Regions from separate parts of the Homo sapiens genome. Here region 1 is linked to region 2. Evidence: fine-mapped expression QTL. A gene starts in region 2. The other region holds a variant in brackets. All regions are shown on one strand. Distances are from middle to middle.

The links. PIP is the estimated chance that this variant, and not a neighbour inherited with it, causes the effect.
Region 1: its variant is fine-mapped to the expression of GALNT2 in whole blood (TOPMed, PIP above 0.99).

Annotation. Positions count from the first base shown.
Region 1 is chr1:230,150,134-230,158,470 of GRCh38, reverse strand. The region is part of intron 1 of GALNT2 (polypeptide N-acetylgalactosaminyltransferase 2); the gene reads right to left. Among named protein-coding and RNA genes, the nearest start is that of GALNT2, 87 kb to the right of the region's middle. RefSeq lists an enhancer at 8,020-8,249. The variant G/C (reference allele first, on the strand shown) is at 4,380.
Region 2 is chr1:230,063,214-230,071,550 of GRCh38, reverse strand. It overlaps GALNT2 (polypeptide N-acetylgalactosaminyltransferase 2), which reads right to left and starts at 4,313. Exons shown (of 16, transcript NM_004481.5): 1 at 4,145-4,313. The coding sequence starts at 4,270. RefSeq lists silencers at 1-53, 3,498-3,557, 3,998-4,807 and enhancers at 2,504-2,583, 4,938-5,097.

The DNA.
Region 1 (8,337 bases), 87 kb before region 2:
CAGGAGGCCTCCCTCTTACTTCTATGTTTAGCTTTTTTCCAAAATAAAAGTTAATGTTTTCATGCCTTAGTTTCCCCATCTCTGAGAAAAGACAGTGCATATATAATGTAATCAGGTCTAAGCTCCAGTCTCTCCAGAATCCTACAACCAACTGCTGTGTTCAGGCCTTATCTACAGACTAGAGAACTGCACTAGTTCCTGGCTGGAACCTCTGGCCTCATCTCCCCACGCTACTCATCCCTCACACAACACGAAATGCCCCCTTCATCCTGCCCCCCTGCTACCCGGGCCTCCCGAGGGCTCTCTGTGTTCCACCACGCCCCATGCAAACATTTCCCTTTCAATGCCTCTGGAGTCACAGTTCATCCTACCCATTCAACCTGATCTGTGCTCAGTTCTGGCCTGTTCCATGACGGTTCTCCACATACAACAAGATCCTTCTCACTTCCCTGACTTGGCTTATGATTTTTTTTCTCTGCTTTTAAATTAAAAGTATAATTTACATACAGTAAAATTCACTCTTCTTAGTATCCAGATCTGGGAGCTTTGACATCTGCATATAGTCATGCAACCACCACCACAATCAAGATATAGAACAGTGCCACCATCCTCCAAAACTCCCCTGAGTACATTTGTAGTTAACTCTCTTCTCCAGCCCCTGGCAATCCTTGATCTGCTTTCTCTGTAGTTTTGCCTTTTCCAGAATGTCATATGAATAGAAGTATACAGTATGTAGCCTTTGGACCTGGCTTCTTAATGCACATAATGTACAGAGATCCATCCACATTGTGTGAACCGTGCTTGTCTCCTTTCCACTGCAGGAGGTATCCCGCCACATGCTGCATTCCACCATGTACGCAAACCACAGCTTGTTCATCCATTCCCCAGTCGTGGGACAGTTACGTAGTTTCCAGTTTTGGCAAATATGAATAATGCCATTATGAATCCCAAGAGCACATAAATTTCCATTTCCCTTGGATAATATCTAAGGGTGGGATTACTGCGTTGTATGAGAACATGTGTTTAGCTTTATAAGAAACTGCTCAACTATTTTCCAAAGTGGTTGTACCATTTTGCATTCCCACTGGCAAGGGATAAGAGTTCCAGCTGCTCTATGTCCTTGCCAGTACTTGGTGGCATTTTTGCTTTTTTTCCCCCCAAAGCCACTCCCCTAGGTGTATAGTGACATAATGCAGCTTTCTATAAGTTTGCTATAATGGTGCTTACGACACGCCAGGTATCATGCTCAATGGTTCACACACATCTCAATTAATGCTCACTCAATACTACACAGTAAGTTCCAATGTTTTCTCTGCTTTTAAATGCATCTAAACTGAAGTGGCATCTGAACCAAGGTCAAATGACCACAGTACACGAGGCCTTAAATGAGAGCCCTCCTGGGATGGTCTTATTTACTCCTGCAGGGATTCTCCACAATTCTCTCAGGCTCTGACTCAATGTTACCTCTTTCGTGATAGTTTCTCCAAATCAAAACATAATACAGCCCAGTCTGACCTTGCCTCTTACTGCACTTGATCAGCTCTCTAATGATAGAACCAAAGTATTTTCAAAACAGTTGATGTTTCTTATCTCCCAAACAAGACGGCTAGCTTCCTCAGGCCAGAGGATCTGTCTCCCCAACATTTCATCTTCACATTTTAGGGACTGACTGAAATGAATCAGAGTGTGTAGACAGTGTTCTGACATCAAAGGATGAGATGTGCTATTAAAAAAAACCACCACCAACTTGCTTACCATGGCCCCGAGTTCCACATTGCTTTCTAAAGCCACAACCTGCAGGTTACATTCTGCCCCTGCATTAGAAAGTTAAGCAAATTTAACTGCAGAAAATGTGATAGTTTAAGGGCCAAAAAAATAAATTGATCCGTGACAAACGATAATAAAATATCCAGCATCTAGGAAGCATGTTGAAAATGCTGGCAACTTTATGAAGGAATAATCAATTTTAGGAAACGAACGTTGAAGGTAAAGAAACGCAAAAAGGAGTCTCTTGAGTGAACTCACCAATGAATATATCCTACCAAGGACAAGCTGACTTCCCTAGGATGACATTGCAAACCAGTGTGGAAGCCAGAAACAGGCCTAAAATGACACGGTGAACTTCAGCCATGTAACCAGCCCAATATGTACAATGCAAGGAGTTTTCTCCCCAAGATTCAGGATCCAGGTCTTTGCTGTAAAACACACACACACACACACACACACTCTCTCTCTCTTTCTCTCTCTCTCTCTCTCTCTCCCTCGTCTGCTCCCCCATCCCAAAACCGCACCGTCTCCAGACATCAACCCCAGAAGGTCATCACCACCCAGAGGCCAGGTCTACGTGGTATTCCACTTGTATCTAAAATCAATGACTCTCTCTTCTCTTCCCCACCCTAAAAACACAAAAGCTTTACTCTTCTATCACCCACCCACAGACTGAGCCCCATGACCAGGACACAGTCTCTCCCACCCAGACAGAGCCCACCACACAGGCCCTTAGCACTGATCCCATGGTTTTCCTGATCTGACACAATAGTTCCCTCCCCTCTCCATGTGGCAAAATCACTACAGAATTAGTCCTTTTAAAGCAAGGCTTTTGTCCTCCACTCAGAACTCCTGAGTGAACTGGAGGTTGACGCCGAATGTCTTAGCGACCCTCAGAGTGCCCTCACGACCTGGCCCTCAATCTAATCTCTCTCTTCCAGTCAGGATGGGCCATTTGTGATCTTCTGTGGGGTCCTTTGTGCTATGCACTTGGGAGCCCAGTTTTGGGGTTATAATCACTCTTTCTCTTAGAAATGGTCTTCAAATGACAAAAGCTCCAGTCCTCACAAAACCTAGCTCTGCCCATGGGACTGTCCTGGGAGAGTCCTGCCCTGTCCCTCCCAGCCCCAAAGGAGGAGACCCTGTCCTGATTCAGTCATTCCTGATCTGTTTTGGAAGATCCTGAAAGAAGCTAAAATTTCTTTATCTTGACCCTCTCTGAATAAGGCAGTTTTTAAAACAGCTACAGGTTGAATTGTATTCCAATTTTCAGTTCAAGGACAGCCAGCTGAAATGATGACCGGGATTAAGAGATGAGCTATAATTAGGGAGAGGCCGGTCTCTCCCGGAGGTCAGCGGCTGCAGGCAGGGCCCACCTCCGAGCGAAAACCTGCAGGGAGCCCTAGGCAGCCAACGAAGAACAGGGCGGGCAGGAGCCAGCACAAGGGCTCTCACAACCCCATGCAGGCCCCAAACGGTGACTGCCTCAGGACTTCCGCTCCACAGATGTGAGAGAAAGTGACGCTCTCACACAGAAGGGAAACCGAGGACCTGGGAAATACTTCCGCAGAAAACTGCACGCGGAAACGGGGTGGGGGGTGCATGCGGCGCGGGGCAGCCTCATCTGGGAGGACCCTGATGTTTGGAAACCAAAGCCCCAGCCCCAGACCAAGACCCCATCCAGCAAAGACCCTGTGGTCAGAGAAAGTCTTTTTAAGTGCTAGTACGTAAATATTAGAACTGCAAGGGGCCTTGGATGTCATGCCAAATGATAAAACCACAAGTTACCAATGTGATAAGGTGAGTTATAAATAACCTGACAGAGACTACCTGAGTAAGTATGCCAGGGCTGCCATAATAAAGTACTACAAACTGGGAGGCTTCAGGAACAGAAACACACTTTCTCACAGTTCTGGAAGTCTGCGCTCAAGGGGCGACAGGGTTTGTTCCTTCCGAGGGCCATGGGGGAAGATGCTGTTCCAGGCCTCTCTCCTTGGCTTAGAGGTGGTGCCTGTTGTCTATTCTCTTGTCACTGTCTTCCCTCCACGTGTGTCTGGCTCTGTCTGAATCCCCCATTTCATAAGGACACCAGTCATACTAGAGCCCATGCTGACGACCACATTTTAATTTGATTATATCTATAAAGATCTTATCTCCAAATAAAGTGACATTCTGAGGTCCTGGGGGTTAGGGCTTCATTGTCCCATAATACTACCTTCTCTCCCAGAAATTTCTCAGAAGGGGCAGAATAGGCAAATATAAGGGGGTCCAGAGATCTCTCACCTGTGCCGGTTTGGCACATTCCTTCTGACTCAAGATTATTTCTTAAAAATACCAACGGCATCAGCTCTGTACCAACTCGGGGAAAGCCAGAGCAGAGGGTGATGAGCTAAAGGGCCGGGGTTTCTTTTCTAGTAAGAATGTGGCCCACGTGGAGAAAAACTTATCCACTGTGGACGAAGGGCCTATGTCTCCACTGCAAGTGCAGGGTGGACGGCAGCTTGACTTCTGACAAGACTGAATGGTGAAATATTGAAAATGTACAAAATCCACATCCCCGTTGCACAATGGCAATATGCTCTTGGCCTCACAGCTCACCAGACACTGATTAT[G/C]CAAGCTCTTTTCAAAAAGCACTGAGGCCCCAAGAAGCTAATCTGACAGAGACTTATTATTCTCCAAACAATGGGTGAAAAGAGAAACCATTTCTGAGTCTTTATAAGGTAGACACCCACGCAGACAGACCCACACGATAAATCTGCATGAGAGTTTGTAAGAGGCACTGGGCACCAGTAGCTTTTTTGTTGTTGTTTTGTTTTTACCAGTAGCTTTTATGAACATATCAGTTCCACCAGACCCCTCCACAGAGTGAATGGTGAGTGCCACCAACCAGGGGCCCCCGAGGCCACGCCAGGAGGCCCAGGAGTGGGAACAAAGGCTGTAATCCATCTCCAAGAGCGGAGTGGCCTCGGCCAGACAGACTGAGCTCACTGTGTCTGACAAAAGAAACTTTTCACAACTGAGACCTCTGGGTTGGAATCATGAAAAGAACTCAGGGGCGTGGGGCTGGAAGGGTACTTAGGGGCCTGATGATTGGTGAATCTGGAAGGCGTCCTCAGATGTTCTCGATGAATTAATTCCCCAGCCCTTTCAAAAAACACCACCAAGGCCACTGTAATGCTTGCTTCTACACAGAAAGCATTATGGGTGTTTTTTCTTTTTCTCTAATACATGAAAATGTGCTTACTGTGATTAAAAATAAAACTAAAAACGCAAAGAGACCCTTAAAATGTTGAAGGCTGACCCCCCATCAATGACTGTTTAAGTGTGTAGGTGTCCAGTCTGACTACAGAAACACTCCCGCATGTAAGGAGAAAAGAACCGATCATTAGCAGACATCTGAGTTTGTCTCAGGCATGGCAATGGGCCTATTCATTTTCATTCTCTCATTTAATTTTATCTCATTTAAATGTATTCAGGCCAGGGGCAGTGGCTCAGGCCTATAGTCTCAGCTACTCCACAGACTGAGATAAGAAGATCGCTTGAGCACAAGAGTTTGAGATTACAGTGAGCCATGATCACGCCACTGCACTCCAGCCTGGACAACACGGTAAGACCTCATCTCTAAAAATAAAAATAATAAATAAAATGTAAATAAGTATTCAGAAGGACTGAACGCAGTTTAGCCAAGTCACCAAGTATTGATTATGCTTCACTCACAGTGGACAAACACACTGAAGGCACAGAAAGATGGAGTGATTTTCCCTAAACCACAGCCAGAGAGAAGGCCATAGATACAGGCAGCAGGGCAAGAAGCTAAAGCCTGAGGAAGCAAAGGAAGTCCAAGAAAGGTGAGCAAATGAACATCACGTTAGAGCCAAGGACAGGGCTGGCGCAGATGGTCACTGCCTCACAATGACAAGCGGTTCAAAGAGGAAGCTACCTGAGAGTGGACGCAGGCTGAGGAGTGTCCCACTCACACAAAACACGAGTCTGTGTAGGAGAAGGATTATCTAGTTCTCTCATAGCTTCTTCTTATTTCCCTCCTGGCTATGCACTATCCTAGCAGCTTTCAAACTTTTTTGCCAAAACCCATAGTAACAAATAAATTTGATGTAGACATCCATCCCCCAAACCATGTATTTAAATATATACGTTATATAAATACATGCACGCCCATCCATCCACATACGGTGTCATAAAAGGGTACCTACTCTTACATGTATGATGTGCTCCAGTATTTTCTATTTAATTATTCATCATGAATACTGATGTTATTCTCCTCTATTAGTTTCATGATCTACTGAGTCACAACTTACAATTTGAAAAACCTTGCCCTCATCTTTGAAAGAGTCAGGTTCGAGATTCTAGCCAAGTGTCGGATGCGCTTACAGGCCATGGTTCCAAGCCCGACTGGGGATTCAAAGAAGTAAAAGGGAACCCATCAGCCTGAGCCCCCTGAGAGCTTTACTTTTGTCAGAGGCATGTGAGCCAAAGCAACTCCATCTTGAATAGGAGTTGGGTAAAATGAGGCTAAAACCTACTGGGCTGCATTCCCAGACAGTTAAGGCATTCTAAGTCACAGGATGAGATAGGAGATCGGCACAAAATAAGGTCATAAAGACCTTGCTGATAAGACAGGCTACAGTAAAGGAGCCGGCCAAAACCCACCAAAACCAAGATGGCCACAGGAATGACCTCTGGTCGTCCTCACTGCTACACTTCCACCAGCACCATGATAATTCACAAATGCCATGGCAATGTCAGGAAGTTACCCTATATGGTCTAAAAAGGAGAGGCATGAATAATCCACCCCTTGTTTAGCATATCATCAAGAAATAGCCATAGAAATGGGCGACCAGCAGCTCTCGAGGCTGCTCTGTCTATGGAACAGCCATTCTTTTATTCCTTTACTTTTGTAATAAACTTTTCACTTTGCACTACGGACTTGCTCTGAATTCTTTCTTGAGCGAGATCCAAGAACCCTCTCTTGGGGTCTGGATCGGGACCCCTTTCCTGTAACACTGGTTCATCTGTAGTTGAAGCCATCAATGAACTGAGGAGCTCTGCTTTCCTTCCTTAGCTTACGTGGTGGGCACAGGGACATGTGGGGAGATCCTACAGAAGAAGGCACTGCTGTAGAGAGAATCAGAAATTCTCCTCCCAGGGCTATCTTGGGGAGGCCGGGTAGTCAGAAAATCATTGCTTCTTCAGGAAACAGCACTGTTTACAAAACAACTAGACCATGCATTACTTCGAGGGCATCATCCTGTGCCCCAAAGCCACCTTACATATCTGGCTTGGCCATCATCCTGAGCTTCCTGGAGGCACTACGTGGACAATCCGACCCTCATCTTCTACCATCACCCTGTCACGGGTGTGCAGCGCTGTGCTGCGATGTCAACGGTGGTCAGAGCAAGTGACACAACAGTGCGTTCTACTGGGACACTTCTCCAGGGGCCTTCCCTCCAGGAGGACATCCCGGAGGTCCAGAAAGCTGCAGGGGAATGGAGGGAAAAGACAACGGTGGCCACGGTGATCGTCAACTGTAATCATTATGTTGGCAAAGCTATAAAATCAAACCCAGGACACCACACAAGATCCTGAACATATTTCCACAAGAGGAAGAATATTGTGCTCCAGGCAACCCAGGTAGTGCACCTTAAATAGGAAAGAGTTCAACAAGTCACACAAAGTTACAGACACCTGCATGCCGGGTGCACCAGCCTCGTCCTGAGGAGTTGAGAATGGTGGCCCTGGCTGGGAATTCTCTAAGTTGCTCTGCCACTGGGAAAATAGATTCCTTAGGGAAGCAAAGAAAACGATGGATTCCTTTGTGCTCAGAAGACAGCAGGCTTCCATCCAGAAAACTGCACAGTCAGGGCCAAGCAGTCAAAGCCCCCATTCTGAACGCCAAATCCCTGGGTGGGAAAAGGAGTGTGTGTCTGTGCCTCCCGCCATCCTAGAAGGCCAAGGAGAGGCTGAATGTCGCAGCGCATTCTCTAATGAGGAGCCAGGCACTCCAACTGCTCCACAAAGGTGTCTTAGACAGAATTATAAGTAGAGCTTAAGGTCTAAAAACAAACAAACAAAACAAAAATGCTCTACCAAAGAGATGAGACTTTCCTTTCAGAATCAAGTCACACATCCCTCCCCAATTTCCAACTCCAACTCTAACAGAGACATTCACTTCTCTGCAAAGGTTGCGGACAAAAACAAAGCGGGCAGAAAGAGGAAGTGGAAGGAGTTGTTGTACTATGTCTTTTTAAAGCAGCTGTTGGAAACCGTTTCAAAGGTTGAAAAAGGATTTTTGTTTTATCCAAATATAAGTTTCTGAGAAGAAATATGACACCTTGGGTGATGTATGAAGTCATGCCTTTGATTCCAAGCCTGTCAAGCCTCTTCTGAGTGTTACATCTCAGGCTTCCTATGGTGAGGTAAAGAGGGAAGCTTCGGTACAGAAAAACGGCAGCACACGGAGGTAGGCAGCTTTGCAGTCACCAAGCAGGCGATGGCTCTCCTGGCCCCAGGGCGGAGCCAGTGCATGTCTTTTAAGCCACTCATGGGCTCCGC
Region 2 (8,337 bases):
CGACCTGCCCTTCTAACAAGAGGGGCAGGGCTACAGAGGGAGAGCAGTGGAGCTCAGAACCTGGGATCCCACCACAGGAACCCCTCGTTCAGGGACACGTCTGTCCACTGTTGGACACTACAACTGCCTAACCGCCAAGGCAAGCTGCACCCTCCACCCACATTCCCGATGGCTGCCCACTACTGGGATCCCCATTCTGACACCACAATTGGGTACAAGAGAGCTGGCATGGTGTCTGGACAACTTCCCAAAAAGTCCGTCTCTAACAGCATTTAAGATTCATAGCCCAAACCCCAAATGAACCAGTCAGATCAATCTCAGAGGTGGGGGTAACGGATAAAAAAAAGAAAGACGACTATTTTCCAGAAATCAAGAATTGTATCAGGAATACCGTGAACTTAAGATTCCTGGTTCACTACACTTTCAAGGGGATATTTAGGCTTTTATTTTTTCATTTTCCTCTTTTAGAGATAGCAGTTATTCAGCACCCACTAACAGTATTTAACTCTCCGAACAAGGCCATGAGGTAAGAATGATTACTCCCACTGCAAAGATGAGGAAACTGAGGGTCAGAGAGGTTCAATGCATCAGTGAAGGTCACTAAGCACAAAGAGGTAAACAGCTAGGTCTCACTCAATGCCAATAAGTGGATTTGTGCCATTTCCCTTTAATGTCTACTACTAGCTCAAAAACATTACTAGTTCCCAAATGGTTCAGCTTGGCATTTGAAGCCCGTTACAATTTAGTTCTGAATTTCTCCAACTTTACACCCTAACGTTCCCCTCCATGTGTACCATGGTCTAGCCCGGCAAGGTCCTTCACTGTTCCAAGAAATAACCTGCCCGCCTCCCCGCATGATTCCTAGAAGATCCCACCCAAAGTCCCCCACCCTTGGACTCTCGGGCAAGGGCCACAGGACTCGTGCCAGCTCAGGGAATAAGGGTGATGCTACTGTGCAAAGTGGACAGGCTCCCAGGGCTCCGGATCATGTCCCTCAACTAACACCGTCCCTTACCTCCCAGCATGCAGGCACACAGGCAAGGGGTCTCAGGCTCCACACACTCTTACAGCAGAGAGAAAACCCTTCCCTTTCCACCCTAAACAGCCACACTTCACCCACAGGCAGCTTCATTTCCAGAGAAATCCCTTCCTCTCTTCTGCGGCTCCATCCACTGCCAACGTACCAAAGCCCAGGGGAGACTTAACATGGTTAAAATTTTAAAGCATTTAAGAAGCTCAAAGGAAAGGCACGCTTGAAGTGCAAATCATCAATTTAGGGGGAAAGAGCAAAATATGGGGGGAAAGGGTATGGACACAAATGTAAATGAAACATAATTTTAAACAATATTTTGAATAAACTGCTTTAACATACATGTCCTGAGCCTGGGTGTTGAGTCCCGAGTTGTGCGGCAGTGCCTGAGATTGGTCTTCAGCACTCCCTCCTGCTTAGTTTACTAAACCTGCAATCTGAGGTGAGCTGGCTCTCTGGGTTTTGCCAAGTGGAGAATAACAGTTCTGTGATGAGTTACTTAACAGGCAGGGCACACAATGACAAGCCTGGGCTGGGCTGCTGAAGCAGCAGAAATCCTAGTTGGACTCCCCTCAGACGATCCCTAAAGCCCAATACTGCAGCCTAGTACCCTATGAAAAACGTCAGGATGTGCAGAAACTGGCTAAATATGGAATAAAAGCCCTGACTTGAACAGTATGAGGCAAGAGAAAAAATATAGGTCCACTTATCTCTAAAAAAACTATAGCTAGCTTTTAAATTCTGCCTTTCTGTGCATGGCCCGCTATCTTTTTTTATGTCCATACTTTACAAGCCAAACAAACCACATTTTTTTTTTGGTATGAGAATGAAATAAATTTAGAGACACTTCTAGTGTCTAAATCCATGGAAACAATTGGGGAAGAAAGAAGACTACACGATTTTCCTATACATCAGGCATTCGTGACAGCAGGGCTCTATTTACCTCCTTCAGAAACCATCTTAAGGCTTCTCTTTAACCCTGGGTCCACCACACGAAGTTAATGAGTCTTCCACTGCAATTTCAAAAGCTATTGCATTTACACACCTCTTCCTCAACCGACAAATCACTAAAGCATCCTAAGGGGTAGCATTAAATTTTATGGTTCGTTGACAGAAAGAATAGAATCCCAAATCACCAATCCATGTGTAATTAATTGTTCATTTCCCCCACTTTTTCTACCTGGTCTCCGTACCTGTCTATATTGCCACCAGGAATTCTTTAAAAAAAACAAAACAAAACAAAACAAAACAAAAAAAAACAAACTAAGAATCACACACTTCAGGAGTGTCTGAAGACTTCTGCATGGAAGACCCCTCACACCATCCAGGAACTGAAGCCCACCAGAGTGAGGAATCAGCCTCCGGGAGGCGAACGAGCACGCTTGCTCTTTCTAATCACGTGTACTAATGAAAGTGGCAGACTAAGGAAAGAGAAACGCCAAGGGTGGCTTATGTGTTTGGTTTTCTTTGCATGAAAGGCAGAAAGCTTTGCCAGGTCTCACCAGCACACCAGGCTATGCAGAGTGGCCAAGGCACAGTTTACCGGGAAGCAAAGTTTTAAAAATCATTCCAGTTTTACACGATTATATCTCTGAATGGACTGCACGGCTTTTGCTGCCTGCATGCTCTTTGCTGTTCAAGAATAAACCAAGTCTTCGCGTACATATACTACCTATACCATTTTTTACAAAAACAACGCTAAGAGTACAATGTCAGCTCAGAAGCTAGGCCGATTCAGCACGTGGAAAGAGGGCTTTATTTCTGCCCTTCTAGATAAAACAAATCCACGTAATTTACCAGAAACCACATAAGGCACCCATTCCACCTAACATCTTCGGCTATGAATGAATGAATGAAGCAAAGAAAAAACCTCTGAAGCAGCCAAACCCCGGCGTGGACATTTAGGGGTCTGACTTCAGAACTGAAGTCTGTTCATCTAGTTAGTTCCCTCTGGCTTGTTTCAGGATACCACTCTCTTGTTCCAACCCAACCACCCGTAGTCCATCTCCATTAACTCAGAATTTTCTGGGTTTGCGGTGACACTAAATGTCACAGTAACGAGGGTTACAGGAATTCGGAAAAGATAACGCTGCTTTCAAAGCCGAGGAGCCAGTAAAACACTACAAACGTCCCCTGCCGGCATGCTCCAGCACACAGCCCGACGCCCTGCTCTCCCGGCCGGCGCTCGGCCGCAGGACCGCGCTGTCCCGGCTCCTCTCGGCGCTCACCATCCTCCCGAATGCCCAGGGCCCGGCCGTCCGGAGCGGCGGCACGAGGACGCGGAACCGCAGAGCGGCTCACACGGTCCCCACAGCCAGATCACTCGGCCCCTGGAGCATGTTAAAAACACAGCCACAGAAGAGGGATTCTCCCTGAAGCGGGGAGTGGGGATGGAAAATGCAAGCGCAGGAGGCCACGTCCGGCTCGCGCGGGAGGGCCGGGGGCCGGGTTGGGCAGAGGGTAACGCTGGGGCCGCAAGGGAACGGCCGGGACTGGCCTCGCTCGGGGCGCAGGGGCGCACTGGCCCCTGGCTCGCACGGGCCCTGGGGCTTTACTTGGCACGGGAGCGGCCGCCCCTGCCCCCCAAAGGTAAAGGGCAAAGAAGGTGGCAGAAACACGGAACCCACGCCCCGCGGAGTGACAGGGGGAAAGGGACGAGGATTTGCAGCCGCTGGTATCAAAGGGCTGAAAAGAAACTTGGACTCCTCTCTCCTGCTGTACATGACGCGTTGGAAAAGCGGTCGCCTCTCTCTCCTCTCCTCCCCACCCCCTTTGTGTTTCCCAACACCCCCATCCCTAAACTTCCAACCGCAGGGGATGGGGCTCCCGGCGGCCGGACAAGACTCGAATTACGACGAGCAGAGAGAGGGGCGACGTCCACGAGAGGGGGCAGAGAAAGGCTGCGGGGGCCGCCCTTTCGGAGCCCGGCGTGCGCAGAGGGGCCGGGTGCACCCCTGCCCTGGGCACTCGGCGCGGAGGCCCGGGACGAGGGCGGGCGACGCGAGCGGAGGTCCGGGCGGAGGAGCGCAGGGGCGGCGCGGAGAGGGCAGGGGACAGGGGCGCAGGGTGGGGGGTGGGCGCAGGGGCCCGGCCGCGGCAGGGCGCTCCACTCACCTTCCTGCCGGCGCCGCCGCCCGCGCCCCCGGCCAGCGCAGAGCCGCCCCCCGAGTACATGTAGTAGGCGATGCCCAGCACCCACAGGAAGGCGAAGCAGAGCAGCATCCGCGAGCGCCGCCGCATTCTCCCAACTCGGCCGCCGGCGGGGCCGCCGCTGCTCGCGAGTGCTGCCTGGGCCGGCCGCGGGCGCGGTGGGGGCCGGGGGAGGAGCGGAGGAAGGGGAAGGGCGCGGCGGCGGCTCCTCCTCCCGCGCGGTGCTACTGCTCGGCGGCGGCGCGCACTCGGCGCCCGAGCTCCGCCCCGGGCCGGCGGCGCCGCGCGGCACCAGAGCAGGAAGCAGCGGCCTCGGAGGCGGCGAGGGGGGTCAGGGAGCAAAGGGCGACCAATCGGCGGCGGCTGCGGGGGCCGGGGCGCGGGCCGCGGGAGGGGACTGCCGCGTCTCCATGGCTGCAGCACGCCGGGCTCCGCCGTGAGGGCCTGGGCGCCGCCCCGCCCCCGGCCGCCCGCCCCTCAGCGTGCTCCCCCCGCCGGCCGCCCCCTCCCCCGTGAGTGACAGGTGGCTGCCCCGGGACCCGACTGGAGCGCGCGCACACGTGGGCAAAGAGCCTTGCTCACGCACACGGGGCCTCTCGATTACGGGGGCGGTAGTGGCCTCGGTGCTTCCTGCCCAGACTGTCACCTCTTCAGCCTTGGTCTTTGGGGCCACCTCAGACCCTTAACGGGCTTGCTCTTATTGGCCAACTGACCTGAGTTTTTGGTGCAAACCGCCCGCTTGAACCCGACTTTGCTGCTGCTTGCTGCAGTTTTCTCACTAATCTTGCAGCAAAACATTCCTGACCCGCTGGTATCGATTTTATTTATCTATATAGGCAGATGTGGAGGTTTTGAGTTGGTAGGAACTGAGAAGGTAATTTTCAAAAGAACATTTTTCTGTGGGTGACAGAGCTATCAATGGTAGAGTTGTTCTTTTCAATAAACACAAAATGAGGAAGAAGGAAAGCAATAATATATTGTTTAAAATCTTTTCTTTCTCATTCGTTGCGTTCTTTAAAAAGCACATTAAGCATCTTTAACGATACAAGAAAACGATCTGTCTTGTAACATAATCTATGTAACCTTGGTGATGCCCTTGCAACACGCAAAGCTTCCAGTGTTCCTAAGAAAGACAGAAATTTTACTTAGAACTTGATATATTAAATGTTTTCAGGAGCTTCTCGGTCAGAGGATAATGGCAGCTGCCTGATATAAGTCCGTACCCATATCCTCAACGAAACAAAAACAAGCCTTCAGCATTACTTAGAGAGAATGCCATGAACTGAACATTAAATTACTTAAGTAGAAGAAAGAAAAGATACCAAATTCCAACTGAGCTCCCTCCACTATTGCCAAGGACTTAAGTGAAGTACAGGGTTGTCACCTCTTTATAAATAGAAAGTCCAACACCAAGAACTAAAAACTGAACAGAGGTCAGGTGCCTTATTGATCAAGGGAAGAGATTTGAAAGAAAATGGGACAAGAGGTGAGAGGCTTGAAGGAGCCTTGTTTCTGGGAAAAAGTCAGATAAATACGAAAAGAAGATAATGTCCTTCAGAGGCCTGACAATGAAGGGAAAGAAGGAAGTCAGAAGGGAAAATTACAAATCCTGCAGAAATGAAAGAGAAGACAGCCAGTCCCCTCCCCAAACACCAACATTATCTATTAAAAACTGCATTTCAGTACACAGATAAAAGAAAACACTCTTGAACCGGGAACCCTGCCTCAAAATGCCTAGTAACAGAAAAACATCAAATCAACTGCATTTAAAGATTCTGCAAAAAGAAAACAGAAATCACATTTCTGATGATAAAAAATAAATCATAACATTTTCGCTGATGAAAACCCCCACAATAAAAACCATGAAGCATAAGAAAATTGTAATACCACATGTCAAACTGAACAAAGTGTCACGTATTTGTATACACATACACACACACACACATATCTAGGATAAGAAATTTCAAGAACTGAAGACAGACTAGACAAAAATTAGGAAGAAATGCAACAAGGGTTGAGCAAATTCAAGAAGGAAATTGAAAGTAATGACAAAAACTATCCCAGAAACAAAGAATAATTACAAGGTGTCCAAGGGAAAATATATTCAAATGAAAATATGTAAAAGGACACTGAAGAATGGCAAGAAAACAATCAAGAAATTGAAAATAATATAAAGATAGAAGTAAAAAGGTTCAGAGAGAAGAGGTTAAAATAAAAGCCAGGAAAGGAAGACCAAAATACATGTTAAGTGGAGTCCCTAAAGTACAAACATTAAACAATAAAACCTAATTAATATTAAAACTATAACCCCAGAAAATAATCCAGGAATAAGGGAAAATTTAAATGTACATGTCAAAAGTGACTTCCATGTACCTTGGGAAATGATCTGGAATTATCAACTCCTAAATATATTTTAGTAAAACGATTAGATTTTAAAGGCAAAAAAGATCAAATTGCTTATAGAGATAAAAATTTATGCTGGCATCAGACTTCTGAACAGCAACATGCAAAGCCAGGCAACAGTGGAGCAGCATTAACAAGGAACAAAAGTGCCAGGCAGGCTGGGCATAGTGGCTCATGCCTGTAATCCCAGCACTTTGGGAGGCCAGAGTGGGTGGATCACCTGAGGTCAGGAGTTCAAGACCAGCCTGGCCAAAGTGGTGAAACCCCATCACTAAAAAAAATATGAAACTTAGCCGGCAGGTGCCTGTAATCGCAGCTACTCGAGAGGCTGAGGTGGAAGAATCATTTGAACCCGGGAGGCAGAGGTTGCAGTGAGCTGAGATCATGCCATTGCACTCCAGCCTGGGTGACAGAGCGAGACTCCATGACACACACACAAAAAAGTACCAGGCAGTGATTTTTATACCCAGCCCTCAAGTGTCAAGGTTGTAGGCAAACAGATATGACCTGAATGCAAAAATTCAGAGAACGTGACTCACATGGGCCTTTCATGAGGAATCTTAGAGAATGAGCTTCCTCCAACCAAGAGACAGCTGAGGAAGCCAGCAGAGTGACTAATGGAGAGCATTTTGTATATTCAGAAGGTGAAAGACTAGTGTATATACATTATACTTTCTGATAAACTTAGAACAGGTGCAACTAAAGACAACTGGAGGAGAAGGGGAAGAGCGAAGGGAAAATAGAATAATATCATTGTCTGCAATATCAGTAGCAGGTAGTAGTGAAAGGATACCATATAAAACAGACAGACCAGATGTTAAAAGGTTAGAAACAAAATATAGGAATTAAGGGTAATATATTAAAAATATAAATAAAAATCACTACAACAAAATATATGTATTCCCAAATATTGGAAACCCTATTCCAAAACCCCAAAAGTTCTAAAAATAGCAAAGAATACATACCAAATAATGAAAGAAACACAGTAAGTGTGGCACAGTGATGCAGTAGTTATAATAGGAAACAATATGACACAGCTGAGACCAACCCACATCAGATATAACAATTTATAAGTGGGCTCAGTTCACCCTTTAAAATAAAAGATTTTCAAATGTAGGCATAACGGAAACCCCAACTCTGAAAAAGCAGGTGCTGTGATTCTGATATCAAACAAAACAGAGTAGGCCAAAAAGCATTAAATGAGATGAAGAGGGACAATTTATAGCCCAAAACTTCCCTTCCTAAACACTTATCAATTGTATATCATTAGGATTTGATCTGCAAAGTAAAATCATTATTAGTTTGATGGAATAAGCGATGTATGATAGAGATTAAACTTTAGACAATGTTAGAGGTAGAAGAAAAAAGGTTATGGAAGTCTTTCCATTGTACATGGGGCAGGTCTGAAGTCACTGTAGTTTCTAGACCTGGGAATCAGAAGAATAGCTAGATGTGACATGGGGCATTTCAAAGACAAAGTCAAAACTGCAAGGACAAAATGTACCTCATGAGAACAACTAGAATTCATGAGGACAAACTGTAATGTACCTCCAGTGTTGATTATGGAAATAAAAAACAAAACACAACAAAAACCCACAGTGAGATACCACTTCATATCCATTAGGATAGCTATTATATAAAATTTTTTTTTTTTTTTTTGGTGGACACTTGCTCTGTCGCCGAGGCTAAAGTGCAGTGGCACAATCTCGGCTCACTGCAACCTCCACCTCCTGGGGTCAAGCCATTCTCCTGCC